7 linked regions of the Homo sapiens genome follow. The protein of the gene in region 6 purifies or fractionates together with the protein of the main gene of each other region. This does not show direct contact. Each region holds a gene or a part of one and is shown on either strand. Other genes may lie near its edges.

Region 1 (4,064 bases), on a different chromosome or scaffold from region 6:
TTCTGGGGATTTAATCTCCTTGATTTTGAAGAAGTAGCCCAGGGTCAGGAAAGCTATGGCCATGGCGCTTACGCTGATCATGAAGACCACCAGGGGAGGCCGACTGCTGATGTACACCTTCAGGTTCTCCAGGGGGTTGATGCTGAACATTATTCTGATCAGCTCCACCTGAAAGAAATGAATCAGAAGCTTCAAGGACTGACTTGCCAACAGGAAAGCTATGATTCTTTTGTTTCCTTTTGAGGTGTTGGGGGGTGAGCTGGGTGGGATGGGCACTCATTACTGAATTTGAGAAATGTCGGATCATAACTTCATTCAAAAGACTAGAAGGAAGAAACACTAAATGTTAACTGCCATTACCTCAAAGTGGCAGGATCCTGAATACATATTCTCTTTCAGTTTGAATCTTCTAAATATTGTGTGTGTGTGTGTGTGTGTGTGTGTGTGTGTGTGTTTTAAGAAACAGGGTCTCTCGTTCTGTCACCCAGGCTAGAGTGCAGTGGCGTGATCATAGCTCACGGCAGCCTTGAACTCCTAGGCTTAAGCTATCCTCCCACCTCAGCCTCCCGAGTAGCCAGGACTAAAGGTGTGTACCACTATGCCCGGCTAATTTTTTTTTTTCTTTTTTTTTTTTTTTGAGACGGAGTCTCACTCTGTGACCCAGGCTGGAGCAATGGTGTAGTCTTGGCTCACTGCAACCTCTGCCTCCTGGGTTCAAGTGATTCTCCCACGTCAGCCTCCCAAGTAGCTGAGACTACAGGCATGTGCCGCCACACCCAGCTAATTTTTGTATTTTTAGTAGAGATGGGGTTTCACCATATTGGCCAGGCTAGTCTCGAACTCCTGACCTCGTAATCTGCCTGCCTTGGCCCCCCAAAGTGCTGGGATTACAGGCGTGAGCCACCGTGCCCGGCTAATTTATTACCTTTTAAGAGATGGGGTCTCGCTATGTTGCCCAGGCTGGTCTTGATCTCCTAGCCTCAAGCAATCCTCCTGCCTCAGCCTCCCAAAGTTCTGGGATTGCAAGTGTGAGTCACCGTACCCAGACTCAATCTTCTAAATATTCTATAATAAATACTGTTACTTCCGTATCACTTAAGAAAAGGTTTAGGTGGGTCAGTAATGTGACACAAATACACAACATGTACAGAAAGAAAGTGAGGATGCTCTCATTTCCTGCCACTGAAAAGCTGAATTCTATTTATTCGACATTCTGTCCTGCTCATTGCCATATGGCTCACAGCCATCCCAGCCCTGCTTAAAAGCTCCTAAGGCTTCTACCAGACCTAGGAGAGGTCGGCAATAGCTCCCTGTCATGGCCCACAGGGTTTTCAGGACTCAGAAGCCCTGCCAGTCTCCCTGACTGCATCACCATCCACTTCCCCTCCTCCCTCCTGGGCTTTGGCCACACTGGACTTGCTATTCTTCAGGATCATCTTGTCAATGTCTGCAAGGAAATCAGCTGGGACTGACAGGGACTGCACTGAATCTGTGGATCGCTTTGGGGAGTGCTGCTCTCTTAACAAACAACGTTGTCTGCTAGTCAAAGAGCCTTGCAGACCTTTCCATCTATTTAGCTTCCTTATTTGAATAATGTTTTCTGTTTTCAGTGTTAACGTTTGCACTTCTTTTATTAAGTTTATTCATAAGTATTTAATGCTTCCTGCCATTTTTGACCATGATGTAGCTGAAGAATTTTGTATCTGCCTGGATGCTTTCCCCAAACATTTCCACGTTTGCTCTTCTTAAAACGCACATCTATGGCTGGGCGCAGTGGCTCATGCTTGTAATCCCAGCACTTTGGGAGGCCGAGGCGGGTGGATCACTTGAGGTCAGGAGTTCGAGACCAGCCTGGCCAACATGGCAAAACCCCGCCTCTACTACAAATACAAAAATTAGCCAGGTATAGTGGTGCACACCTGTAATCCCAGCTACTAGGGAGGCTGAGGCAGGAGAATCACTTGAACCTGGGAGGTGGAGGTTGCAGTAAGACAGGATCACGCCACTGCACTCCAGCCTGAGGGACAGAATGAGACTGTCTCAATTAAAAAAAAAAATGCAAGTCTCTGTTTAATAGCCAGCTCCTCAGAGCACACCTTCCCTGGTCACCCTCAGCCCCTGCTTTATTTCCTTTATATTGTTTAGCATCAACCAAGAGCACAATTATTTTCCTACTTGTTTACTGTTTGTCATCCCTCATTTATGAGCCCAACGAGAGCGGAGATTTTGCACACCTTCCTTGGTCACCCTCAGCCCCTGCTTTATTTCCTTTATATTGTTTAGCATCAACCAAGAGCACAATTATTTTCCTACTTGTTTACTATCTGTCATCCCTCATTTATGAGCCCAGTGAGAGTGGAGATTTTGCCTGTCTTGTTCACAGCTACAGCCCTGGCCCCTGGCCCCTAGAACAGTAGCTGGCACACAATGAGCACTTATAAACACGAGCAAACTGCGACAACATTAGCAAAAAGCAATTTTTTAAAAAGTCTGTATCAGCGTTTAAATTTTAGAGACAAAAAGATGCATCAACAGCCCCTAAAAATCAACAGCAACACATTTTCCATGCCACTTTCACTCAACATTGTTTTTCTGACATCTCTGTTGATCTCTGTTGATCTAGTTCGTTGAATTTCACTGATGTATATATGTAATTGTTCTGTGGTTGAGTTATTCCAGTCTGAGGGGCCTAGCTGGGTTCCTGTTACTGTTTCACCCACCAAGCGCATTGCAACAGGTACAAGAGTGGCTGTAGTACAACAAAGTCACAGAGTAGGGCCTGTCTTCAACCTGATATTGTCAGACCACTCTCCAAGGAGATCAACCAGTTTACACTTCCCCAGCAGTGAAGGAGCCTGCTCCATTCCATGAGATTTGTGCCAACACTTGATTTCCTAAGGCATATTAATATGGTCCAAAAAGACAGATGTGAAATGATATCTCTATTATTTTAAATGGTATCTCCCTGAAACAAAGCATCTTTCCGCTTTTTTAATCAGCCATTTAGGCCCAATCTTAACTGAACTGCCTGAATCCTCTGGTAAGTTACTAATAGGGTGTTAGTCTATTTCTTATTGATGTTTAGAAATTCCTTTTGTGTTTTGGGTACTAAGCCTTTAACAGTTTTATATGTTACGTATAATTAATCCAAGTCTGGGTTTTCTTTAATATGGTTTATGGTATCTTTTGCCATATGAAAGGTTCTTGAGAAGCCAGGCACAGTGGCTCACGCCTGTAATCCCAGCACTTTGGGATGCCAAGGCAGGTGGATCACGAGGTCAGGAGTTCAAGACCAGCCTGGCCAATATGGTGAAACCCCGTCTCTATGAAAAATACAAAAAGTAGCTGGGCATGGTGGCATGTGCCTGTAGTCCCAGCTAGTTGGGAGGCTGAAGCAGGAGAATCAGTTGAACCCGGAGGGCGGAGGTGCAGCAAGTCGAGATCACACCACTGCACTTCAGCTTCGACGATAGAGCGAGACTCCATCTCAAAAGAAAACAAAAAGAAAAGAAAAAGAAAGGTTCTTGATATTTTTAATAGTATTAAGAAATAATTCACATACCATACAATTCACCCATTTAAAGTATACAATTCAATGATTTTTGGTATATTCACTGATTTGAACAACAACCCTCACTATCAATTTTCAAATGTTTTCACTGTCCTATAAAGAAAGCCCAACCTATAACAGATACATAAAAAATAAAAAGAAATTAAAACATACCACCAGAGAAAAATCACCTTCACTAAAATGAAGACAGGAAGGAAGGAAAGAAAGAAGACAAGACCACAAAACAACCAAAAAACAACTAACAAAATGGCAGGAGTAAATCCTTACTTATCAGTAACAACACTGAATGTAAATGGACTAAACTCTCCAATCAAAAGACACAGTGGCTGAATGAATAAAAAAACCAGATCCAACGATGTGTTGCCTACAAGAAACACACCCTACCTATAAAGACACACATCAAATGGAAATAAAGAAATAACCGGGCGCAGTGGCTCACACCTGTAATCTCAGCATTTTGGGAGGCTGAGGTGGGCAGATCACCTGAGGTCAG
Region 2 (4,064 bases), on a different chromosome or scaffold from region 6:
CTGGACTTCCAAGTTAAGAAACAGTTTCACTGGGCCGGGCACGGTGGCTCACACCTGTAATCCAGCACTTTGGGAGGCCGAGGCGGGCGGATCATGAGGTCAGGAGATCGAGACCATCCTGGCTAACATGGTGAAACCCCATCTCTACTAAAAATACAAAAAATTAGCCGGGCGTGGTGGAGGGCACCTGTAGTCTCAGCTACTCAGGAGGCTGAGGCTGGAGAATGGCATGAACCCAGGAGGCAGAGCTTGCAGTGAGCGGAGATCGCACCACTGCACTCCAGCCTGGGTGACAGAGCGAGACTCTGTCTCAAAAAAAAAAAAAAGGAAAGACTTTCACTGATTTTTAAATGTTTCAAAACCACCATTCTAGGTCAAACAGTGTTATTATTCACTATCTATTAAATATCCACATTACATGTTTGCTGTTTACTTTCCCCACATTAATGTACATTCTAATAAGGCAAGGACTTGGTTTGTTAGGGCTGCATTTCCAGTAGTCAGAACAGTATCTGATGAACAGTGGACATCCAAGTATTTGTTAAATTAACTAATCCAATGACAAAAACTACCTCTAAAATACAAATATAATGATAAGATACAGTGTACATCCATGCTGTCAGATTCTCGTACCCTAATTCTTTTCCAGCTATTTTTTCAGGAACCAATTTAAAGTAAACTCTTGGCCAGGCGCTGTGGCTCACACCTGTAATCCCAGCACTTTGGGAGGTGAGCAGATCACTTGAGGTCAGGAGACCAGCCTGGTCAACATGGGGAAATCCCGTCTCTACTCAAAATACAACAATTAGCTCGGCGTGGTGGCGAGCGCCTGTAATCCCGGCTACTCAGGAGGCTGTGGCAGGATAATCGCTTGAACCCGGGAGGTGGAGGTTGCAGTGAGCCGAGACTGTGCTACTGCACTCCAGCCTGGGCGACAGAGTGAGAATCCATCTTAACAAATAAATTGATTAAATTCTCTCGTATTAAAAAATCTTTTTTTGCTCATGAATGTCTAAAAGTCTCTGTACTCTTATTGTTTGATACAATATACTCATATTCAATTTAGAAGCTGAATTATCCTTAGACAAGAACAAATCTTATTATAATTTTAAGTATATAATTGCTTTATAACACAATAAATATAATGCAATAAGGTCTGAGTCACTAGTAAAAAAGTCAACAAGATCAAATTAAGAAATCAAGCTTAGAATAAAGATTGAGAGATTGACAGTACCTTCAAATACATTTTAATCTTAAAAAAGGGACTATGCTTTAAAATCATTTTAAAAATAGAACTTCTATCTTTGCCAAAAAAATTGGGTGAAATTATAAACGTTATTCCCCTGGAGAAAAGAACTGCTCATTATGCATCATTCAGAAAGCTTTTAGAAAAAATAACATATTTTTGAAAAATTCTAGACTAAGTGGAGCAAAGTGCCACATCAACTTCTCTTTTCCACTTTAGAATCATCCTGTGGTTCATTTCACTTTCACATTCCAATACTTTCAAGCTTCAGATTGCTAAGCCTCCTTCCCCTGGTAAAATGCCAGAAAAGGTATTCACATACCTTTGAAAAAAAATCAAGTACTTTGGAAATGACATTAAACAACTTTTGAAGGTTTAACCTTCCACCGTGTTTGGCTATTAAGGTTATAGACTTCCATAAGATAAGGACTTGTGAATATATATACTCAAAAAGGCTACAGCTGAATGTGGGTATTCAATAAATGCTTGAAACCAAGTATAAAATAACAAAATAGCAAACTGTGACTTGAACTGATTAGCTCTGTTTCTAAGCACTAGAGTGCTTTAGTAAAAGCAAAACATTGAGGCTGGGCACAGTGGCTCACACCTGTAATCTCAACACTTTGGGAGCCAAAGCCGAGGTTTGCTTGAGCCCAGGAGTTCAAGACCAGCCAGGGCAATATAGGGAGACCACCGTCTCTACAAATAATTACAAAAATTAGCCCAGTGTGGTGGCACGCAACTATGGTCCCACCTACTTGGGAGGCTGAGATGGGAGGATTGCCTGAGCCCAGGTGGTCAAGGTTACAGTGAGCTATGATTGCACCACTGCACTCCAGCCTGGGTAAGAGAGGGCGACCCCGGGCGTCTCAAAAAACAAACAAAAACTGACCTTTGTTTTGGAAAAGAGGTTACAATCAGACTTAATAGGAAAATATCTTTAGAAACTCACAATGATTTCATATTTAAATTAGTATTTACCAAAGTTTCCATTACATATAATAGGTCTGTGAAATTCTCACCCTCTTAGGATCCTTCACAAAGTAACTTCCACTTGAACCTTGAGAGATTCTTTCTGGAAAAATTCCAACTTCTATTGCTTGCTCTGCTCTCAGCATAATATCGGCAAATTCTGGGTCATCCAAGAATGCATTCATCTCTGAAGTACCAATAGTTACTGCATTAAGAAGAAATACCAGCTATGAGAATGCTCATGATATGGACCTGTAATATCGATTAGCTTGCCGGTATCAGGATATAAGGTACAGAAAAATGTAATCAAGATTTGTATAGACTGCTCTAATCCTCCTTCCCCCCACTGCCTAACAACCCCCACTTCTCTTAAATTTCCAAATAATAACATGGGGGCGGGGGCGGGCACAGTGGCTCACGCCTGTAATCCCAGCACTTTAGGAGGCTGAGGCGAGTGGATCACCTGAGGTCAGGAGAGTTCAAGACCAGCCTGGCCAACATGGCAAAACCCCGTGTCTACTAAAAATACAAAAAATTAGCCAGATGTGGTGGTGGGCACCTGTAATTCCAGCTACTCGGAAGGCTGAGGCAGGAGAATCACTTGAATCTGGGAGGTGGAGGTTGCAGTGAGCAGAGATTGCGCCACTGCACTCCAGCCTGGGCAATAAGAGCGAGACACCGTCCAAATAATAATAATAACAACAACAACAACAACAACATGGGAGGAAGTTAACTGTTCATTAAAAATAATACTAATACCTCTCATTTCTTTGAACTTCGGTCCTGCAATGATTCTATCATCCATCCTACTTCATCCTCTAGTTCCCCAATCATATCTCGGATTTTGTCAATACCAGTAACTGCAACCTCACCACACTTTCAATTTCAAGCACCTCCTGTCTTCCCAGTTCAGTCCCTCTGGCACTCCGAGTCCAAATATTCTTCTGCCCTACTAGAACCTACAAAGGACTGCTCCCCCACGTCACTGGAATTCTCTCCCTTCATGTCCTTGCTTCCCTCCTCCTTGGCCAGCTTAAATTATGCTGGGTCTTCACAAAATCAACTCTTTCTTTCTCCCTTCATCATGGTCACCTGCAAAACTCCCAGTCCTGGTTAAACCCAACTGTCTACCAACTCCATGCCTGCACCAGGGCAGCGGAATTAAAGAAATGCACATGAGCCAATTTCTCTCCTCAAATTCCCAACACCTCCTCTTCCATCCTCTCTCTCAGGAGAGGATCTAGCTTCCTATTTCATTAAGAAATAAGCAGCAATCACAAAATACTACGACCAGCCCCCAGCACTGCATTTATTACCAACTACTTAACTTTGGAATGGCCCAGGTTCCATTCACAGTCCTCTTCTCTCCGTTACCAACACTGGTGACTCCCAAATTTCTAATTCAAGCCTGGACTTCTGCCCTAAACTCGACAACTGTATTCAACATCTCCACTTGGATGCGTAATAGACATCTCAAACTTCACTACCCAAAACTTCATTCTTCACCTTTACGCCTCCCAAAGGCTTCATCCCTACGTTTCCCATATTGCAGTTGCTGGCACCTCCAAATCTTCCAGTTGCTTAGGCCAAAAACCTTATAATCATCCATGATCTCACACGCTTACCCTCTACATCCAATCAGCAGGTTGTATTGGCTCTACCTTAAATAAATACCCAGAATCCAACCACCTCTTGCCATCTCCATTCCTTCCACATGATTCAGGTTACCATCGGCTCTCACCTCGATTATTCTAAGAGCCTCCTAACTGGTCTCCCTCTCTCACCCAGTCCCTCTCTATACCTAACAGAGAAGCTAGTAATACTTTTTCTTTGTAACTTTTAAGTT
Region 3 (4,064 bases), on a different chromosome or scaffold from region 6:
TGACATGTGAGGCATCATGGATTCCTTGATAATCTGTTAAGAACTATGAACCAACCCTCTCTCCTTCCCAGAAAAATGCACATATCCTCACATAATTTCAAGGGAGTCCTAAAACTCTTGAAGTCCAGACATGGTCCCCAAGTTAATTTGTGACTTCAAGATTTAAGAATCAGAGAAGTTGGTAAGAAACAGGACATAGTAGCTGGATAATCCATTTACCTCCTAAAGTCTAGCTCCGAAGTGAAGAGGAGGGTGAAGAGGGAGTATAATCTCTGGCAAGGACTCACTTGCTAAAACTACAAAACCCTGCTCCCTTCATGGTCTTTTCTATTCATCTGCTCCACAGATATTTATCATATATTGACATGCTAGGAACTGTTCTTGGCCTTGGGACTATGGAGCTGAACAACACAGGGTCCTCCTACTACCTTTGCCATTTTTCTCTTCTCTTTCCTCCCTGCTCCCTTCTTCATTTTCAGCAGTCTCAGTCTGTGCTCTTAACCACTATTTGGCAGCCACAGGGTGTGATAAAAAAGGCAGTCAAGAGATATGGTGATGAGTCCTGCTCTGCATTAACCAGCAGAGTACCGTGGCATGATCATAAGCTACTCCTAGGGACTGTAAGAAGACACCCATCTGTTGTGTTTGGCATCACATAATCAATGACCGACACATTTGTGACACTATGTAAAATATCTGTTAAATGACTGAAATGGATGAACTTTACTTCTTTGAATATCAACTCAATCAATGGCGATTTCGGCAAATAATGTGAATTATTCTCGAATCTAAAATTGTGATTCCACATTTCTTTCTTTGTTATCTTAGCTTTCCCTTTGAACTACAGAGCTTGTCATACCCTCAAAGTTACTTACATTTTACATTACTTGGAAGAATATCTTTGTAAAATGTCAGAAAATAACTCACCTTGATCCTCGGAAATATGCTGTAGAGTTTTTCTTTTTCCATGGCCACTGTGCTGCTGACCTAAGAATATAGAATTTAATTAGTTTCAATATATCTTTTTCAACTATATAAGAATGTGCTTTAACCATTTCTGAAGATTAGTTCAGAGCTTCATATTTCTTTTTTTTTTTTGAGACGGAGTCTCGCACTGTCGTCCAGGCTGGAGTGCAGTGGCGCGATCTTGGCTGACTGCAAGCTCCCCTTCCTGGGTTCATGCCATTCTCCTGCCTCAGCCTCCTGAGTAGCTGGGACCACAGGCGCCCGCCACCACGCCCGGCTAATTTTGTGTATTTTTTAGTAGAGACAGGGTTTCACCGTGTTAGCCAGGATGGTCTCTATCTCCTGACTTCGTGATCCGCCTGCCTCGGCCTCCCAAAGTGCTGGGATTACAGGCGTGAGCCACTGTGCCTGGCCAGAGCTTCATATTTCTAAGTAAGTCTAATCAAAGTCACTCAAAAGAAAAAGCCCTAAAGGACACTTTGTTTCCTTTTGCTACCATTTCATTGCTCTGGAGGTGCTACCCAGTTGTATCTACAAATCTACTCCCCATTAACAAGTTAACAACATTGAAAGAAAAGCCCCCAAACCCTGAAGGTCATGATTAGGTCTGTTTATAATTTGGCAAATGTGGATTTCCTCTGTACTTTAAGTAGGGTGCTACTGATGAAATTAATTATGTGTACAGAACTGCAAAAAAATAAAAAAGCATCAGAAATGGAATGAAAGGGAAATCACTCTCTGATTTTATGTTTTCCATAGGTGGGAAGTGTCATCAGATTTAGTTTGATATTTGAAAAGCACCTTTGTATTCTTAAAGCCAGACTAAGTGCTCTATAAAGATGAAGTCCTTGAAAGTCAGATCTCAGTACACATTACCATGACCAGCCTTCCTTACTGAAACTGCTAGCTCACAGATGCATCATTCTTAACTTGCTTCGTAGGAACCCTCCCTGCACAGAAGTCTGCACAGCATCTTCTCTGAAAAAGGAAGGGAAGGCTGAACTGAAGTTAATGAGGGATTGATGGGCTGGATTACAGTAACGGAGAAACTTAGGATATAAACTTTCTAGGCACAGGTCCTTTTCAGATACATATAATGTCATGCTGCTCATTTTCACTCAGCTGAGAACGCTGCTCAGTATTTTCCAGGCCCTCAGACCTCCACCCTCAGCCAACGTGGCTCATCCTCTGGCCTTTTCTGGATGGATCACCTTTACCTGATTCTCCAGTCTAAGGCCAGAACTATCTTGTTTTCCCCATACTTCTTCCTGCCCAAGCAGAGACACTATAGCACTGGATTTTTGTTGTTTTGTTTTTAGTGGAAAATGTTTCATGCTCCTCATGCAAAGTTCTCATGAAAAAGCATAAAGATAAAAGTAAGAAGTCGTCTGGAATCTCCCTGTCCAGAGGTAACAATGTAACATTTTAGCCGAGAATTTCCTTGCAATCATTTATTCATATTAGTAGCTTTCAACTGGGGGTAATTTTGCCCGTCCCTCCCACCCAGGGGACATTTGGCCATGTCTGTAGACATTTTTGATTGTTACTACTAGGGGACTGCTACTGGCATTTAGTGGGTAAAGATCAGAAATGCTGCTGAACAATCCTACAGTGGTTAGGACAGCTCCCAGGACAAAGAATTATCCAGCCCCAAATGTCAGCAACACTAGTACTGAGAAACTTTGCTCTATGTAACAGAGGTCACACCATACATACTGTTAGGTAACAATCTTAATAGGAAATATAAATAATAATAACAGCCAACATCTATATAGCACTTCACTATGTTACAGACATTGTTTTAAGTGCTTTGTAAATAAAAAATCATTCTCACAATCTTAAGAGGTAGGTTTTATCACCCCTATTTTACAAATGAGGTCCTTTAGAGGTTAAGCAACTTGCACAGAGTCATGCAGCTAATAAGAGCCAGGATTTGAACCCAGAGTTTTTAAAACCTACACTGCCTTTCCATTCATGCACGATATTCCATTTTATAATCTCTGGCAAAGACTCACTGCAAAAATTCCATTTTATAGTCATGTTATGATTCACTTCATCCTTTATTGATGGACTTTTAGGTAGTTTCCAACTTTCTGCTCTAAGAAACAACATGGTAGTAAACATCCTTGTACACAAATCTTTGCACATTCATCTGATTAATTCCTTAGGATACATTCTAGACATGAAACAGCTAGGTCAAAGGATACACAGTATACATTTCCAATTTTGATACATATTGTCAAACTATCTAACAAAACATGTATCAATTTATACTCAAAGTTACTTCTCTTTATTTCCTTGGCTCCTGGGGAAGCTGTGTTTCATATACACAAACCCAAACTGTGTATCACTGTTCTCTCTCTTTCATTCTCCTAACCTACCCATCCTCCCTCAAAAGACCTAGGTTAGGACTTGTTTCTCCAGGCAAGTGCTAACGGTGGCCACCACAGCCTGGTGCTACCCCAGCCCTCTTTTTTAAACCCTCTCTGACAGTAACAAATGAAATCTTCGATCTGTAAAGAACAATGAATTCTTCTACAGAGTGAAATATAAATCAGTGGGCACAAACTCCCAAAATATCAGAAAAATAGAATGAACAGTGGCAGGCAGACATCAGTGCAGATGGATAAACAAGCAGATTATTAAATTTTCAAGGTAACAAATGAACATCATTAGAGATTCTAAACAGAGGGTTCTAAAAAACAAAATTGTATTTCTATAACCATGAATAAATTCAATTGAATAAAATGGGAAGGTATCAAAAGAAAAAAGTATTCATATAAGATTAGACTTTAAAACATTCTATCTGCCTAAAAATTGCTTACTAGTTTACCTGGGGGAAAATGGTATTAATAACTACACGGTGGAGTAACTGGATAACACCTTGACCCCAGGAGTTTGAGTCCAGCCTGGGCAACATAGTGAGATCCTGCCTTTTAAAAATAAACAAACAAACAAATAAATAAAGTGACTCTTTCATATGTACTGACATGAAACAAAGACATGGAAAGATTACTTAGATACACCAATAAGTTAGGGGGAAAGTTGCCTGAGTTATACATATTTGTAAAATTTTATGAGCATATATAGGTTTCATA
Region 4 (4,064 bases), on a different chromosome or scaffold from region 6:
GTGGGCAAGTCTGGTAATGAGGGGTTGATCTTTACCAGGAATATGACAGCAGGAGAGAAGCCAGAGTATAAGGACACTGATAAAATTAGATGGATAGAGGTAGTGGTATAAGTTTCCTACAGATTGCTCAGTGAAAAGAAAGAAAAGTTCTCATCAGCTGAAAGCAAGGTTGGAAAAATGTTGGACATTTGAGTCAAAAAGAGGAAGTACAAAATTGTTGTCTAGGACAAGCGTCAGCAAACTACAGCCTATGGGCCAAGTCCAGCCCACTGCTTGTTATAACGCCCACGAGTTAAGAATGTTTTCTACCTCTTTAAATGATTAGGGGGAAAAACTCTTTTTTTGTTTGTTTGTTTGTTTGTTTGTTTTTGAGACAGAGTCTCGCTGTGTTGGCCAGGCTGGAGTGCAGTGGCACAATCTCAGCTCACTGCAACATCCACCTCCCAGGCTCAAGCAGTTCTCCTGCCTCAGCCTCAAGCAGTTCTCCTGCCTCAGCCTCCTGAGTAGCTGAGATTACAGGCATGTGCCACCACACCTGGCTAATTTTTGTATTTTTAGTAGAGACGAGGTTTCACCATGTTGGCCAGGCTGGTCTCGAACTCCTGACCTCAGGTAATCGACCCACCTCGGCCTTCCAGAGTGCTGGGATTACAGGCATGAGCCACCACGCTGGGCCAAAAACTCTTTATTCTTAAAGAAATACAGAAATTATTTAATAACAAAAACTATTATTAAAGAAAAATAGTATTTCAAGTTTTATTAGAACACAGCCATATTCATTTATTTACATATTATCTATGGCCTGAAGGAAGTTAAAGGTGAATGCAAAGGAATGATTATTGACCATGGAATGGAAGCTGGGTAATGAGGAAAGTGAAAATATAAGGGAGGTTAGAGACAGTAAGAATTATGAGTCCTAATGGGTTGTGGGAGTTGGAAGTGAGCTGAAAAGATAGGAAATAATTTGATCATGCAAGTGAGTGACAATATAGAGATTGTACTATATTTTCTGGTCTTCGGCAAAGCACAGCATCTAATCATATTAAAAGTGGATCCTAAAGGTCAGAGGAGGCCCATTCTGCTGTTTGCCATTTTTACCACCTCACTCTGGTGGTCTCAAACTGCTGTGCAGTTCTCATCATTGTTAAAATTTGCTTCCTGGCCTTTTAACATTTGACAGCATACAAGACAATACATATTTGCCTTGTATAAATCAACTTGACTGTGAGGTTCCGATGTAGTGTAGAACTAGACATGTTAGAACTTGTTGTACATGACTTAGAGAAGAGAAACTTAGAAGTATAAGATGAATATATGATCCCCTGTATACTCATGCATGAATTGTGCACTTTAGGCATAGTATTTCCAACTATGGTAAAGCATTAATGTCAAATGAATAGAAATACATGGAAACTAGAGATTTCTTCTGAACTAACTTTAATGCTAAAAACTAATGGAATATTTAAAAACCTAGCTTTATTTGGCTCCACATCTATGTCAATAGATGATTTCATTGAAATGCAGTAAGTGCTAGGATAGACATGCAGAAGGTTCTAGGGATAGAGAGTGGGGTGATATCCCTGGCCCAAAGGGAGTAATATTTCCTGGAGATGACACCCAGACTGAACCTTCAAACAGCAGGAGTTAGCCTAATAAAGAAGGGGAGAAATGTTTCCGACAGAGGGAATAGCATAAGTAAATGCTGAGAGACATAAAATGACTTGGAGTATTGTAAAGAGTTTGGTATCACTTGTGTGTGTGTGTGTGTATGTGTGTATATGTAAGGTTTGGTGGTTTTTGTTTAGAGATTTGGCTTTACCCTGAGGGCATGAAAAGAGTCATTAAAGGGTTTGAACAGAGAAGAACCCATAAAGAGATGGATTTTAAGACCTAGCCTATTAATTATTAACTTTAATTATTTGCTTCCTAAACATTGTGTAGTTCAAGTCTAGTCAGTATGATAATTTAGAAGTCAGTTGCAATAGTCTGCACAAGAAGTGGTGAAAACTTGAACTACAGCAGTGGTATAGAGATGGAGGAAAGAGAATGACCCCAGGAATATGTAGGGAATAAAATAGTCAGGACTTGGTGCGTTGATTGTAGATTTGAAAATTGAAAGAGAGGGAGGAATCAAACTTGTTAAAATACCTCTTTATTGAGCAGCACAGGGAATTAGTATGTTTATCTTATTGGGTCTTGGAAAAGGAGGAGACTGTTGCTTCATGTTGAAAGCCAAGAGAATAAAAGGCAGGGGGAGAATAAGGGCTGGTGGGGGTTGCCTTTCTATAACCCTCCATGAGAGGTAGACATCTCTCTCTGTGTCTTACCTTCCTATCCTACTCACTGTACTAGTGGTCTTCAAAAACTTTTTTTTTTTTTTTTGGAGACAGTCTTGCTCTTTTCACCAAGGCTGGAGTGCAGTGGCTGGATCTCGGCTCACTGCAAGCTCTGCCTCCCGGGTTCACGCCATTCTCCTGCCTCAGCCTCCCGAGTAGCTGGGACTACAAGCGCCCACCACCACGCCCAGCTAATTTTGTTTTTGTATTTGTAGTAGAGACGGGGTTTCACCGTGTTAGCCAGGATGGTCTCGATCTCCTGACCTCATGATCCGCCCACCTCGGCCTCCCAAAGTGCTGGGATTATAGGCGTGAGCCACCACGCCTGGCCCAAACTTCTTTTTAAAGTAGTAGGAGGACCCCTTTATCCAAACAAAATCTTACTATGTAAAACCCCAGGATATGACAGCTAAAACAGGTGAAGGGACCTGAGGCACCTCCACAGAGCACCTAGGACTCTACAGAATAGTTTGAACAGCAGTGTTGTAGTGTGAACACAGCTGAACTTACTCCTACCTTCCCACCCCAAGCTTCAGATAAAAGTTGATGTCAGAGGCCCTGTAGCCAGGGGCTGAGAGAGTGGTGGTATCCTCAGATTATAGCAGTGCACTTGCTTCAGAAATGATTTGCTCTTGAGGCATGTGTGAATTTAAGAAAGGTAAAATGGATGAAGTAGTTATTGGCCTTCATCAATCTTAATTATCTTGCCCTACCAGAAACAGAAGGATGAATTGGGGGGAATACCAGCCAGGGAGTCTAGAGGTCTAGTCCTGGCTGTGACCTTGGCTGGCCACTTGACCTTGAGCCCATCCCTGAACCTCATCTGCCTTGGTTTCCTAGCCTATTAAATGAGAACTGGGTGATCTCTGAGGTCCCTTCTAGCTCTAAAATTCTATTAATTTGAAGTAGCCAGCTTTTTGGGAAAAGGTTTTTGATTGAAGATGCAGTCTCAGAGATTAGTGCCTGCTCATGAGAAATGTCCTGAAAGTCCCACAGAGGGAATAGAGATGGAGCACAGCCCATGTTATTTATAAACCCGTCTTCATCATTCTCTAGCTAGACATAGCACACTTTTGGCAGTAAGTTTTTAGTGGGAATTTTCCATGACCTTTTGGGGTTTAATTTTGGCTATATGAACATGGTGATAATGGACAAGTACCTCTGACCGACTAGAACTGCAGAATGTATAGCAAAAGTAAGAGTTGTCTGAGGTGACTCTTTTGCAAAGTTTGAGAGTGTAGCCCGTGTTCTAACCCCCATCTCTGTCATTTTTTAATTTTTATTTTTAGAGATAGAGTCTTCCTCTGTTACCCAGGCTGGAGTGTGCTGGCATGACCATAGCTCAGTGCAGCCTCAAACTCCTGGTCTCAAGCAATCCTCCTGTCTCAGCCTCCCGAGTAGCTAGGACTACAGGCTCATGCCACCACATCTGGCTAATTTCTCTGCCTCTGTCATGTAGGGTGGCCTGCTCACCATTTCTCTGCTATTGCTCACCATTTCTCTGCTACTGCCCTTCTCTTCCCTGGGCCTTTGCTGATGTATTAGTTATAAATGGCTGCATAACAAATTATACAAAATCTAGTGGCTTAAAACAACAAACATTTATTACCTCGCAGTTTCTGTAGTAGCAGCTTAGCTGAGTGGTTCTGGCTCAGGGTCTCACAAGGTTGCTGTCAAGATGTTATCTAGGGGTATAGTCATCCGAAGGTTGATTGGGCTTGAGCGTCT
Region 5 (4,064 bases), on a different chromosome or scaffold from region 6:
TTCTTCTGTTTTTGAGACAGAGTCTTGCTCTGTCACACAGTGGTGTGATCTCGGCTCACAGCAACCTCTGCCCCCTGGTTCAAGCAATTCTCATGCCTCAGCCTCCCGAGTAGCTGAAAGTACAGGCATGCGCCACCACACCTGGCTAATTTTTTTGTATTCTTAGTAGAGATGGGGTTTCACCATGTTGGCCAGGCTTGTCTCGAACTCCTGACCTCAGGTGATTCAGCCGCCTTGGCCTCTGCTGGGATTTCAGCCGAGAGCCACCGTGCCTGGCCCCACTGATTTATGTTTCTATTTTTTCATGAATACTACAGTGTATTAAGTACTATAGCTCTAAAATACATCTTAATATCAGGTAGCATGTTCACTTATATTCTTCTTTTTCAAGATGTTTAAGCTATTCTAGGGCTTGTGCCTTTCCATATGAATTTTTATTATTTATTTATTGATTGAGATGGAGTCTTGGTCTTGTCGCCTAGGCTGGGCCCAAGCGATTCTTCTGCCTCAGCCTCCTAAATACCTGCGATTACAGGCGCCCGCCACCATGCCTGGCTAATTTTTGTATTTTTTAGTAGGAACAGGGTTTCACCATGTTGGCCAGCCTGGTCTCGAACTCCTGACCTCCGGTGATCCACCCGCCTTGGCCTCCCAAAGTGCTGGGATTACAAGTGTGAGCCACCGTGCCCGGCCCCTCCATGTAAATTTTAAAAGAAGCTCCATGTCTATACAAAAATGTTGCTAACATTTTGATAAGAACTACATAAACCTATAGACCAGTTTAGGGTGAACTGACATCTTTACTATACTGTCCTGCAATCCATGAACACGGTATGTCTGTCCATTTCTTTAGGTCCTCTTTGACTTCCTTCATAATCATTTTACTATTTTTAGCACACAGAGCCTATACATGTCTTGTTAAATTTATACCCAAGCATCACATTTTCTCTAGGGTGACTGTAAGTAGTACTGTAGTTTTTTGGTTTTTTTTTAGACGGAATTTTTGCTCTCTTGCCCAAGCTGGAGTGCAATGGTGCGATCTCAGCTCACTGCAACCTCTGCCTCCTGGGTTCAAGCGATTCTCCCACCTCAGCCTCTTGAGTAACAGGGATTACAGGTGACTGCCACCAAGCCCGGCTAATTTGTGTATTTTTATAGAGACAGGGTTTCAGCAAGTCAGCCAGACTGGTCTCGAACTCCTGACCTCAGGTGATCCGCCCGCCTTGGATTCTCAAAGTGCTGGGATTACAGGTGTGAGCCACTGCGCCCAGCTAAGTAGTTTTGTGTTTTTAACTTTGGTTTCCACATGTTCATTGTTGGCACATAAAAATGTGATTAAGTTTTGTGTGTTGCTCTCATATCCCGTAACATGGCTGAACTCACTCTTTAGTGAGTTGTCACCACTTCTTATTATAACCATTTTAATAAAAGTGTAGTGACAGTTCGTTGTGGTTTCAGTTTGCTAGAATCTTCTGATCTATGCTTTAGATTTATAGCTGATTTCTACCTGGATCTCATGCTTTCTTTATAAATGAATTCAATTCAGTTCATTAATTCAATGATCCACCTTTCCCAAACGTTAACGCCCTTTTCAACTATCTTCTTCCTGTCACTTGTTCGACCATCTGGTGAGCTTCTTGAACAAGAAACTGCAAATCAACCTGGAAAAGCTCCCTTATTCTCTTCCCCTACACACATGACTCATGCTGTTTCATCTCCCTTAGGAATCAGACTCAGATTTTTTGATACAACAGTATCAAAAATTATAAAATAAATTTGAATTTTATGTATCGTTTTATACCTACAAAATAAGAAAACAAAAATGGTGATACTTTTAGTAAAAGTTCGTCATGAACTGCTCCCTGTTAGCTCACGGCCCTTTGAAAAAGCAAGAGGATAACACAGAGCAAGAGCCATAAAGGCTTCATATCATTTGACCAAGTAATCTCATGTTTCAAACTTACTCTAATGAAATTTTTAAGAAGAAACAAGAGTCAAGGCTGGGTGTGATGGCTCATGCCTGTAATCCCAGCACTTCGGGAGGCTTGAGGTGGGAAGATCACTTGAGCTCAGGAGTTCAAGAACAGCCTGGGTAACACAGTGAGACTTCATCTCTACTAAAAATCAAAAAATTAACAGGGTGTGGTGGTGCACGGCTGTCGTCCCAGCTACTCAAGAGCTTGAGATGGGAGCGGGCCCGGGCACGGTGGCTCACGCCTGTAATCCCAGCACTTTGGGAGGCTGAGGCGGGCGGATCACGAGGTCAGGAGATCGAGACCATCCTGGCTAATGTGGTGAAACCCTGTCTCAACTAAAAGTACAAAAAATTAGCCGGGTGTGGTGGCTGGTACCTGTAGTCCCAGCTACTCGGGATACTGAGGCAGGAGAATGGCGTGAACCTGGGAGGCGGAGCTTGCAGTGAGCTGAGATGGCACCACTGCACTCCAGCCTGGGTGACAGAGTGAGACTCTGTCTCAAAAAAAAGAGGTTGAGTTGGGAGGATCGCTTGAGCCCAGGAAGTCGAGGCTGTAGTGAACTGAGATCATGCCATCTCACTCCAGCCTGGGCAACAAAGTGAGACCTTGTCTCAAAAAAAAAAAAAAAATACACACACACACACACACACACACACACACACACACACACACAGACACATATATATATAAAATAAAAAATTAAAATTAAAAAAGAAACAAGGGTCATCTACAGCAAAGACATTTACTACTGTTATCTGTAATAGTGGAATAATGGGGTTGTTTCTAAACAATAATTTTCTGTTATAGATGTAGTGTGTTCCCACGCTCCAGGTGAGAGGTGAAGGTGGCTAGATTAGAAATAGGCAGTGGACATGGTAAACAGTAGCTTCATAATGGGTAGAGTTTGAAGGTTGAGCCAACTATACAAAGCATGTAGTGGGTACCAAATAAATACTTGTTTAACAAGAATAAAAACCATTCATTCATCCTATTGGTTTCATTTTATGGTTTCCAAACATAATAAATATATATCAAATATATATCTCTTCAACTCTTAAAGCAAAAAGTCTTTAGCATTTTATTCTCTCTTGACTTCCCCCTGCTGCTTGGTGTCCCTCTGAGTCTTGTCTTAGTGAGGGTCCAGGGATCACCAGGTGTCCTCACAGTGGCCATTCTGACTCCAATCCCAAACCCACAGGAGAAGGGATGTCTATTTCCTCTTCCAAATCCGTCATTTACCATTGGAACCACACTAGGGGGCAGTAGTTGAGAAAAGGTCACAAGAGGGGAGAGAGAAGTAGGTGAGATACCTGACTTGTGGCAAGAGTCCAACTCTCCCCCTTTCAGGGATACCAGTTGAGGCCTTCCTGTCTCATCGCTGGTGGAAAAGAAGGTGAGGTCCCTTCGACCCGGAACAGAAATGAGTACCAATGGCTAGATGTCTTCCAAGGCAATACAAGAAGTGAGTTCAAAATGGAATGGTTTTTTTTTTAATTTTTGAGAAGGAGTCTTGTTCTGTCACCCAGGCTGAAGGTGCGATCTCAGCTTACTGCAAGCTCCACTTCCCGGGTTCACGCCATTCTCCTGCCTCAGCCTCCCGAGTAGCTGGGACTACAGGCACCCGCCACCACACCCAGCTAATTTTTTGTATTTTTAGTAGAGACGGGGTTTCACCGTGTTAGCCAGGATGGTCTCAATCTCCTGACCTTGTGATCCGCCCGCCTCGGCTTCCCAAAGCGATGGGGTTACAGGCAGTGAGCCACTATGCCCAGCCAGAATGGTTTTATAAAGAGCGTATGAGGGCATTAACATAGACAGAGATTGTTTATGTGTTCATTACATTGGGAACTGCCTCTATTTTCAGCCTGAGTTAACATTATAAACCTTACCCCTTACATGCATTCATTCAACATATATTTGTTGACTGCCTATGAGGAAGGTACAAGGATGAATAAGACAGAATGTCTGTGTTTGTGTGAAGCCTACAGAATAATAGGAGAGATGGACAGAGAAGTAGTATAGTGCCAGGAAAAGGTTAATGTCAGGAGGTAAATGAGGCAGGGGAAAGGGAAAGAAAGCAATGGACAC
Region 6 (4,064 bases):
GGCCCAGCACCCATCAGTGTGGACACGGTTAACAATAGCAACAGACACAGCGCCCTCCAGTTTGACCACACCCTTCAGCCCCCCACCCCACTCCGTCCCTGCAGGGCCCCTGAAACATCAGGGTGACCACACAGTTTGACAGAAGAGAAAACGGAGCCTGGGCCACCGGACGGTGCGGTACCCAGAACACCAACTCCGAGGTCAGACAGGGACAGAAACCTGGGCCAGCACCGTCCCTCCTGGAGCCTCCCAGGCCTTGGGGTCCCCATGTGGACGCCATCCAGGGAGCACCACCGCCCAGGGTTACTCCGCAGCTTTTCGGTGCAAAGCAGCCAGCAGGAAGGGCAGCCACAGGGGACAAGAGGGCTCCCTCCCCGCTGTCTGCCGCACTGGCCTCAGCTCATTTAATCCTTCCACAATCCTACAGGGGGAGGGACAGCCTTCCCACGTGACCGATGGGGAAACTGAGGCCGGGAGAGGGAAGTGACTCGCCCCTGGCTCCCTCCAGAGTGTGCCCCCACTGCCCCGTGCTGGCCAGCCCAGGGCAGCCCAGGCCACAGGCAGGACTCAGAAAGAAGCTTCTGAGAGCCAGCTGCGCACTGTCCCCGGAGACCCCTTCTGCCCAGTGCACAGGCCCACAGGCAGGTGGCAACCGAGCCTGCCCCAGCAGAGACCCCTGGCGTGCACCAGACCAGCCTGCAGGGCATTGGGGAGGTGTCGGGCCACTCCTCTCCACTTCCCTGCGTGATCTGCCTTCAGTCAGCCAATGACGGTCACTCGCCAAGCATCTCTGAGACCTGCACAGCTCAATGACATGGGCAGGGAAGCAGGGGACCAAGGACACGCAGCTGACGATGGCGACGAGAAGGGAAGGGGGCTGCTAAGACACACGGGTCAGGGGTCCTGCTCCCAGGGACACTAGGCGATGTCTGGGGACTTCTGTGGTTGTCACAACTTGGGGGTGCTCCTGGTCTGGTGTGGGTGGAGGCCAGGGACGCTGCTCAGTACCCTGCAGTGCCCAAGACAGCTCCACCCCAGAGAACGATCCAGTGTAAAACACCCACGGAGCCGAGGCTGGGGAATCCTGATCAAGGTGTCTGTGGGCAGATCCCAGATCCCAGATCCCAGGGCAGGATCCCCCATGGAGCAGTTTCTCAGAGCACCCAATGTGTGCCACACACGCCAGGTGCTGTGGACGCGACAAGATATCACCACACCGGCAGCGGAAGCAGCAGCCAGCATTCCGTGGGTCCCCACGTGCGGCAGGATGGGGATCACCACCGAGTCCTCACCCCACCGCCCCCTGAGGAAACTGAGGCACAGACCTGAAGTCCCACAGTTACAAGAGGCAGAGGTAGGCTCTGAACCTGAGTCTCCCCAGGCCACGTACCTGATCCGGACACCACACTGCTCCCAGGCCCTGCAGGTGGCCCGAAGACCCACCCACCAGTGCTGTCCTGAAAGCGCCTGTCGGCAGACTGCGGGAGGCCAGGCTGGACCAGGAACCCCCACAGCAGAGACCATCGGAGGCTTCTGACCCAGAGGCAGGGAGTGGGGATGGAGGGTGGGAGACTGGACCACAGACATCTTGATGGCAGGGGAGGGATGTGGCCAGGCCCAGATGACAGCGAGAGTCTGGATCCAGGGCAGCCAATTCTAAGACCTGCCAGGTGCCCTACAGATGACAGACATGGTGGGAGGCCCCCCGGGCGGGATGCTCCACACAGGGCCTGGCGGCAGGAGCTACATGCACCTGCAACCACCTGCACGCCAGCAAACCGGCACTTAGGATCCCGGTTCTGCGAAAGGACTTAATTTCTGCCAGATAATGACCCTGCACGTGGGCCTTCCCAGAGCCCCTGGCCGCCCCTAATCGCATCCACCGCTCTCAGTCACCCAGGTGGGCAAGCCATACAAGGCTTCCCATCCTCCACGCACAAGCTGGGGTGCCCAGTGGGGAGAACACAGCCCTGCTGGGGACCCAGAAGGGGCGCTGGGTCCCAGCTGTCTACAGGGTAGGGCCGAGCAGGCCCCGCGAGCGCCCCTCTAAGATCCGTCCGACTCCACCACACACCTCTCCAACCTCCTGATGCCACGGCGTCCTCCCCGTGCTGCCCAGGGTCCAGGTCCCAGACAGAGACAGGCTCCACCACAAGACTCAGAAAGTGAAACCTCTCGTGGTTAAATCTCGGAGGAAAGCACTTCCTCCACTCTCACTACAGCACCGGCAGAGCCGGGCAGGAGGCTCGGGAGGAAGCTCCACGGAGCTCACAGCTGTGGAACGGAGCTTCCCGGACCATGCCCGGGAAAAGCAGACCCTTTCAGCCACAATCATCATAACTGATTACATGTAAACACAAAGGACGTGAGAGCAGGCCCGGACCAAGTCCCCACGTCTCCCTGGCCTGGGCTCGGGCTTGGGAAGTCAAGGTTGGACGAGGCCATCCAAGGGCGCTTCCTGCTCCCAGAGTCTTCTGGGACACGGCACAGCCACCCTGCCAGGCGCCAGAGGCCACGCTCCACGCCTCCCAACACTGGGCCAACAGAGGCCCGGCCCTTCCCGTGGGGCCACCGCACCCCATGCTGGATCCCGGGCCTTGTCACTGCCCCGTGGGGGCTGGCGCAGGCCGGACAGGAAGCCTCCGGAACTAACCATCCTGCTTTATTTAGAAAGCCTGGAGCCACTCCGGCTCAGCCTCGCTAGCAGCCTCAGGCCCTGGGAACAGGCATTCCCATGGAAGTCCCCACGTTTCCAACCACAAACCTGCCACAAAGAACTATACGGGGGTCCCCTCCACAGTTTACCAGTGAGACGGAAACCTAACAGCCGAGGGCTGCCCGTGATAGGCAGAAGCCCAGCGGGCCTGGGGAATGGGAACCCAGATCCAAGAGCTGCTGGCAGGGCCTGCAAGAGCTCTCCAGGCCACAGGGCGGACCCCAGGATGGCGGCGGCGCGGACGGAGGCGGGAGCAGCGTGTGCACTAAGTGCGCAGTACGTGCTTGCCACTCCTGTACCCATCCACAGCTGTCACCAGCATCGACAGAAGTGTGCATAGGGACAAACCTGGAATACCACGGGTATAAAACAATACATGCATTCACATTCATGCATACACTGAGTAGTGAATTCACACACACACGGCTTTGACGGTGCTTAGAAAAATACTCTATAAGCACTCATGGAAACTTCTGACAAAATAATTTGCACTCATTATCCCTCAGCTTTGCCACGAGCATTTTACGTTGTACGCTACCACACAGTAAAGGGTCTCAAATGGGGGCAACGTGCCCCCCAAGGGACAATGGGCACTGTCTAGAGACATCTGTGGTTATCACGACTTGGGGGAGCTCCTGGCATGGAGTGGGTGGAGGCCTCGGACACTGCTCAGCACCCTGCAGTGCCCAGGGCAGCCCCACCCCAGAGACCAACCCGGACCAATGTGCACAGGGCCCCGGGGAGACCTGTTGTACGTAACGGAGAGGCCCATCTGAGGCGTGAACAGCACATTTTAGCCGCCGCGGGAGAGGCGGCACGGCAGCCGGAGCCCCGTCCAGCTCTAGGGCTCCGTAAGGTCCCCCCCACCCCGAAAACGGGGCACGGAATGTCCTCGCCAGGCTGACCGACCTCACAGGCCGTGTGCAGCCCCAGGGAGGCAGTGGATGAGAGCGAGCAGACGCGGCGTTCTTCCAGAACATGCTCCACCTGGTTGCAAACCCAGGAGTCAGGGCAGGGCCCTGGAGCCCTGCTGCCCCAGAGCCTGGAAGAAACCAGCACCACCCACATAAACGAGACCCTCCTGGGCCCCAGATGCCACAGGGGTGTGGTGGCAGGCCCCTGCCTCCCTCCCCGACATCCACTCCACAACGCTGTACGGGAGCCATGGGGGAGGAGGGATGGAGCCCCCACTGCTAAGGGGCAGGGGAGGAAAGAATTCTAGGGAGAGGCAGACCCAGCTTGGCTGGGCCTCCTGCGGAGTGCCAGGACCTCCACCCAGAGGTCTCTGAACATTCCGTGGGCCGCAGGCGCCATAGCCACCTGCTGCAGCCCAACAGCCCCTTCCTTC
Region 7 (4,064 bases), on a different chromosome or scaffold from region 6:
AGAATGAGATTGTCTCAAAAAAAAAAAAGCGGGGAGAAGGATTACACAGCAAGAAAACACTCTGAAATAAACAAAACTGCATGAGGGAGTGAGAAGGTGGTGGCTGCCCCATGTGTGTGGGAGAAAAAAGGAAAACACTAAACTTTCCCTTTAATAACAGTTAACAGTTCTAGAGTGCTTACTATGGGTGGCACAGTGCTCAGCACCGTGTGTTTATTGATCTCACTGAATGCAAATAACAATCCTGTGAAGTGTCCTGTATTGTTATCCCCATTTTACAGCTGAGAAAACCTAAGCACGCAGATCTTGCCCAGGGTCACCAAAGTAGGTGAGTGGTAAAGCCAGGACCCAGACATCAGCTCCCCAGCACAGGCACATAACCCCTGTTCTCCTCTGATTCTCTGTCCTTACACATCTTTTCATGGTGTCACTCATTATAACACGTGTGTGCTACATTTATCATAAAATGTTAAGTAAAATATGAAGTGTCAGGGCTTTCCATGGGGGCTCTCAGTTTCCCCTGGGGTCCTCTCCTCATCTAAGCTTACAATAGGAGGTCCCTTATTCTCAGCAGGGACTTGGGAAAAGAGACTTCATTTTTTATCTGTGTCTTGGTTTAATATACAATAGGCCCCACTACCTGCCTGTCCACCATTTAAGGAGTCAGGGGTGACGGTCTTCTGTCTTGGCCTGAAACCTAGGAGAGAGTGAGGCCCTTGTCTATTTGTAACTCCATCCGGACAGCAGCCATCACAGACTGCATTAGAAGGGATCATTATATCTGCATATGGCAGGCATCCCCTGATTCAACGCAGACTCTATGGGTGACAGGCCTTGAGAAAACCCAGAACCAACCTGCTTCGAAGGGGTCTCAGAGGATAGACATTTGCAATCTTGGTGAGAAGGAGCAATAAGTTTATATAGGGGAAATCTTGTATGCAAGGGTTTTTCAGCCATGGATTGATTTCTTGGGAGACCTGGAGCCCAGGGTTCTAGACAAGATCTAACCAGAGGAGAGTTTCCAGTTACCCTGGAGAAGGATGTCTCAAAGGATGATGTCGATCCCCAGTTCTAGCCCTACCTGGGTGTTTGAGGAAATATAGATCCCTTGATATGTGGAGCTGGCAAGACCAGAGCTTGAGTCCTGATTCTATCAGCTTGAGACTTTGTGTAGGTTGTTTAGGTTTTAAGCCTCAGTCCCTAGATCTGTAAGTTGAGGATGAAGATATCAACTTGACAGGGTGGGTTATGGTGAATGTTAGCAATGATATAGGGAAGTACATACTGTAATTAGAACACAAGAAAGAATAACCATTACTCCTACTAACTCTATCCCTGTTGTGGTGAGTAGCTTCTAAGATGAGTCCCAGTGGTTCCCACCTCCCACTCTTCCTACCCTTGTGTAATCCCTTCCTCTTGAGTGTGGGCTGGACCTAGTGAATTGCTTCTAGTGAATAGAATATAATGAAAGTAATAGGATGTCATTTCCAGTATTAGATTACAAAAAGACTCTTCCTTGCCATTCTTGCTCCCTCACTTGACCACTCTGATGAAAGTCATGTTGTGAGTTGTTCTATGGTAAAGCCCATGTGGCAAGGAATTGAGGAAGGTCACTGGCCAACAACCAGGAAGGAACTGAGGTCCCCAGTTCAACAGCCTGCAGGGAACTAAATCATGCTGAAAACTGTGAGTGAGCTTGAAAAGAGATCCTCCCCCAGTTGAGCCTTCAGATGAGGCTGCAGCCTCAGCCAATACCTTGATTGCAGCCTTGTCAGAGGTATTCACACAGAACTATACAGCAAAGCTTTGTATACCTGAATTTCTGACCCACAGGGACTATGAGATATAAATGTTTGTTGTTTCAAGCTACTAAATTTTGGGGTGATTTATTATGCTGCAATAAATAACTAATATACCCTGGAAATACTACATTAGATTACACCCTGGAAAAATGGACTAAATTCTACCAGACAGTGTCACATGAAGCCTCTACTTAAATACTACATCCTCTGGGAAGACTTTAAAAATCCCTTTTTCTGAGTTAGGTGACACTGTTTTTTCATATGCCTCTCTATTTGACTGCAGGGAACTTGAATCATCACCACCATCATCATCAAAACTAACACATAGTGAGTACTTATTATGTACCAAGTATATTGCAAAGTCGTAAGTCATTTACTGTTCACAACAAACCTATGCCACACGTACTATTATTGTTCACATTTTGTAGATGAGGAAACTGAAGCTCAGAGGAGTTAAGTAACTTGCCAAAGACCTCAGTTATTATGTGGCAGTCTGAGGAAATTTGGCTCAAGTCCACATTTCTAACAATTATATTATAGGGCTCTATGAGTCCTGCCCCAGTTCATAGATGTTAAGTGGGTTCAAACCCAGGTAGTTGAATGCCAGACATTACGTTCTTAAATGTAACTCTCTCTAGATGCCTTCTGGCTCTAGGACAGTAAGTTTGACGTGCCTCACCTGGAGTTCATCGGGTTTTGGAATGCTACCTACCTGTAAACACTAGGCTGGCATTTTCCAGTTCTTCTTGGGGAACTTTGAAGCTGAAGGATTCATTGTAGAAAGGATCAATTGTGCCCCTTAAGAAGGACGTCTTCTTGGTTTTCACAAGTTTGAGTCCATGCACCAGCTGGATTTTCACAAAGGGGTCTGAAAATTAGACACAGCATCATAGAATGTTGGAGATCATGAAACCTAATCCGTCCAGTCATTCTGCCATTCAACCTCCCATCCATCTGTCTTTTTATTCCTCCATTCTTCTATCCATCCACCCATTCAACTTTTCATTCATCTCATAGTCCGTCCATTCATCCACCTGTTTATCCATCCATCCATCTTTCCATCCGTCAGTTCACTGATCCATTCATCATCTCACCATACTTTTATCTATCCATTTTCTATCCATCCAATTTCTCATCTATTTGACAGTTCAACCATCCATCCATCTATTATCCATCCATTTTCCCATTCATCTGCTTATCCCCTTCCTTCTTCCTTTAGCCATCTAATATTTGTTGAGCTCCTCCCATATGTCAGCATTGTGTTCATTTTACAGATAAGAAAACTGAGGACTCAAGGTGAGAAATCAGTTTTTAAAGATCTTGCTGGTGGACACAGAACCAGACTCAGAGCCTGCCCTGGATTTCTGTCTGTGGAAACCCATTATCATTTCAGTGAGCCCATAGCCCATATACAGGTGAATAGAGATGGCAGAATTATAATTCATTTTTAGATCATTTTACAGTTTACAAAGGGATTCATGTACATTATCTAATTTAATATTTGTTTAAACAACTTATCAAGATGAATACTGTTATTATGTCAGTTTTTGAGATTGAGAAATTGAGGCACATAGTGGTTAAGTAACTTCCCTAAAGCCACATCATTTGTAAGCCACATCATTTGACTCCTAAACCCTTAATGATTTTATCATACTGACTCTCCCATCGTGGTGAGTCTGAAACTCTTCAGTCTTAATACCATTGCCTCCACTGGCCCTTTCTAAGCCTCTGTTTTTATAATGTGGCTTTTGAGAATGCAAGGTGTCTTCTAGCTGTCACCTTATTGCAAAAGTAATTTATTTTAGCTACCGCACTTAGAGAAGACAATAATTCCACCACTGAGCTGAACAGATCCCTGACTACAGCTGCTTTCACAGTAATATCCTTTGCTGTCATGGAAGAAGCAACATGCAGATGGAATGGAATCTGTTCCGTTCCATTAAAAGTCATGTTTGAATGGTTTTTGCTATAATATACACACTTTAAATACAAGTCTTTTCAGAGTTGGAATTCATAAAAATTTATGGCACACATGAAATGAGCTGGCGAAAAACCTTAGGGTGTGTCCTCCACGCTCATTGATTAGAATGGATAGTCAATGCACACTATCGCCACCTGCAGGATGGCGTCTACATTGCAGGAATAGCATTTGGAAAGGCCAAGTCACTTCCTTGGGTTCAAATAGGTTTTAAGTTTCCAGTAGTTATCACAACCAGTCTCAGTCAACTCCCCAATTCCAATAGGGTTACTAAGATGGCATCA

Evidence for each region.
Region 1: the proteins of GNA11 (region 6) and TMEM248 fractionate together in Homo sapiens (co-fractionation; one large-scale study listed by BioGRID). This does not show direct contact.
Region 2: the proteins of GNA11 (region 6) and PI4K2B fractionate together in Homo sapiens (co-fractionation; one large-scale study listed by BioGRID). This does not show direct contact.
Region 3: the proteins of GNA11 (region 6) and POGLUT1 fractionate together in Homo sapiens (co-fractionation; one large-scale study listed by BioGRID). This does not show direct contact.
Region 4: the proteins of GNA11 (region 6) and ATPAF1 fractionate together in Homo sapiens (co-fractionation; one large-scale study listed by BioGRID). This does not show direct contact.
Region 5: the proteins of GNA11 (region 6) and TTL fractionate together in Homo sapiens (co-fractionation; one large-scale study listed by BioGRID). This does not show direct contact.
Region 7: the proteins of GNA11 (region 6) and SYT17 fractionate together in Homo sapiens (co-fractionation; one large-scale study listed by BioGRID). This does not show direct contact.

Annotation. Positions count from the first base shown.
Region 1 is NC_000007.14:66,937,952-66,942,015, reverse strand, and holds part of TMEM248 (transmembrane protein 248), read right to left. Parts: intron 169-4,064; coding exon of another isoform or gene 151-168; coding exon 1-150.
Region 2 is NC_000004.12:25,250,680-25,254,743, reverse strand, and holds part of PI4K2B (phosphatidylinositol 4-kinase type 2-beta), read right to left. Parts: intron 2,424-4,064; coding exon 2,269-2,423; intron 1-2,268. UniProt on the Homo sapiens protein: Together with PI4K2A and the type III PI4Ks (PIK4CA and PIK4CB) it contributes to the overall PI4-kinase activity of the cell. This contribution may be especially significant in plasma membrane, endosomal and Golgi compartments.
Region 3 is NC_000003.12:119,482,251-119,486,314, reverse strand, and holds part of POGLUT1 (protein O-glucosyltransferase 1 precursor), read right to left. Parts: intron 988-4,064; coding exon 928-987; intron 1-927. UniProt on the Homo sapiens protein: Dual specificity glycosyltransferase that catalyzes the transfer of glucose and xylose from UDP-glucose and UDP-xylose, respectively, to a serine residue found in the consensus sequence of C-X-S-X-P-C.
Region 4 is NC_000001.11:46,636,940-46,641,003, reverse strand, and holds part of ATPAF1 (ATP synthase mitochondrial F1 complex assembly factor 1), read left to right. Parts: intron 1-4,064. UniProt on the Homo sapiens protein: Has a complex stabilizing activity in the assembly of the mitochondrial F1-F0 complex.
Region 5 is NC_000002.12:112,495,251-112,499,314, reverse strand, and holds part of TTL (tubulin--tyrosine ligase), read right to left. Parts: intron 1-4,064. UniProt on the Homo sapiens protein: Catalyzes the post-translational addition of a tyrosine to the C-terminal end of detyrosinated alpha-tubulin.
Region 6 is NC_000019.10:3,097,185-3,101,248, reverse strand, and holds part of GNA11 (guanine nucleotide-binding protein subunit alpha-11), read right to left. Parts: intron 1-4,064. UniProt on the Homo sapiens protein: Guanine nucleotide-binding proteins (G proteins) function as transducers downstream of G protein-coupled receptors (GPCRs) in numerous signaling cascades.
Region 7 is NC_000016.10:19,223,289-19,227,352, reverse strand, and holds part of SYT17 (synaptotagmin-17), read right to left. Parts: intron 2,671-4,064; coding exon 2,515-2,670; intron 1-2,514. UniProt on the Homo sapiens protein: Plays a role in dendrite formation by melanocytes.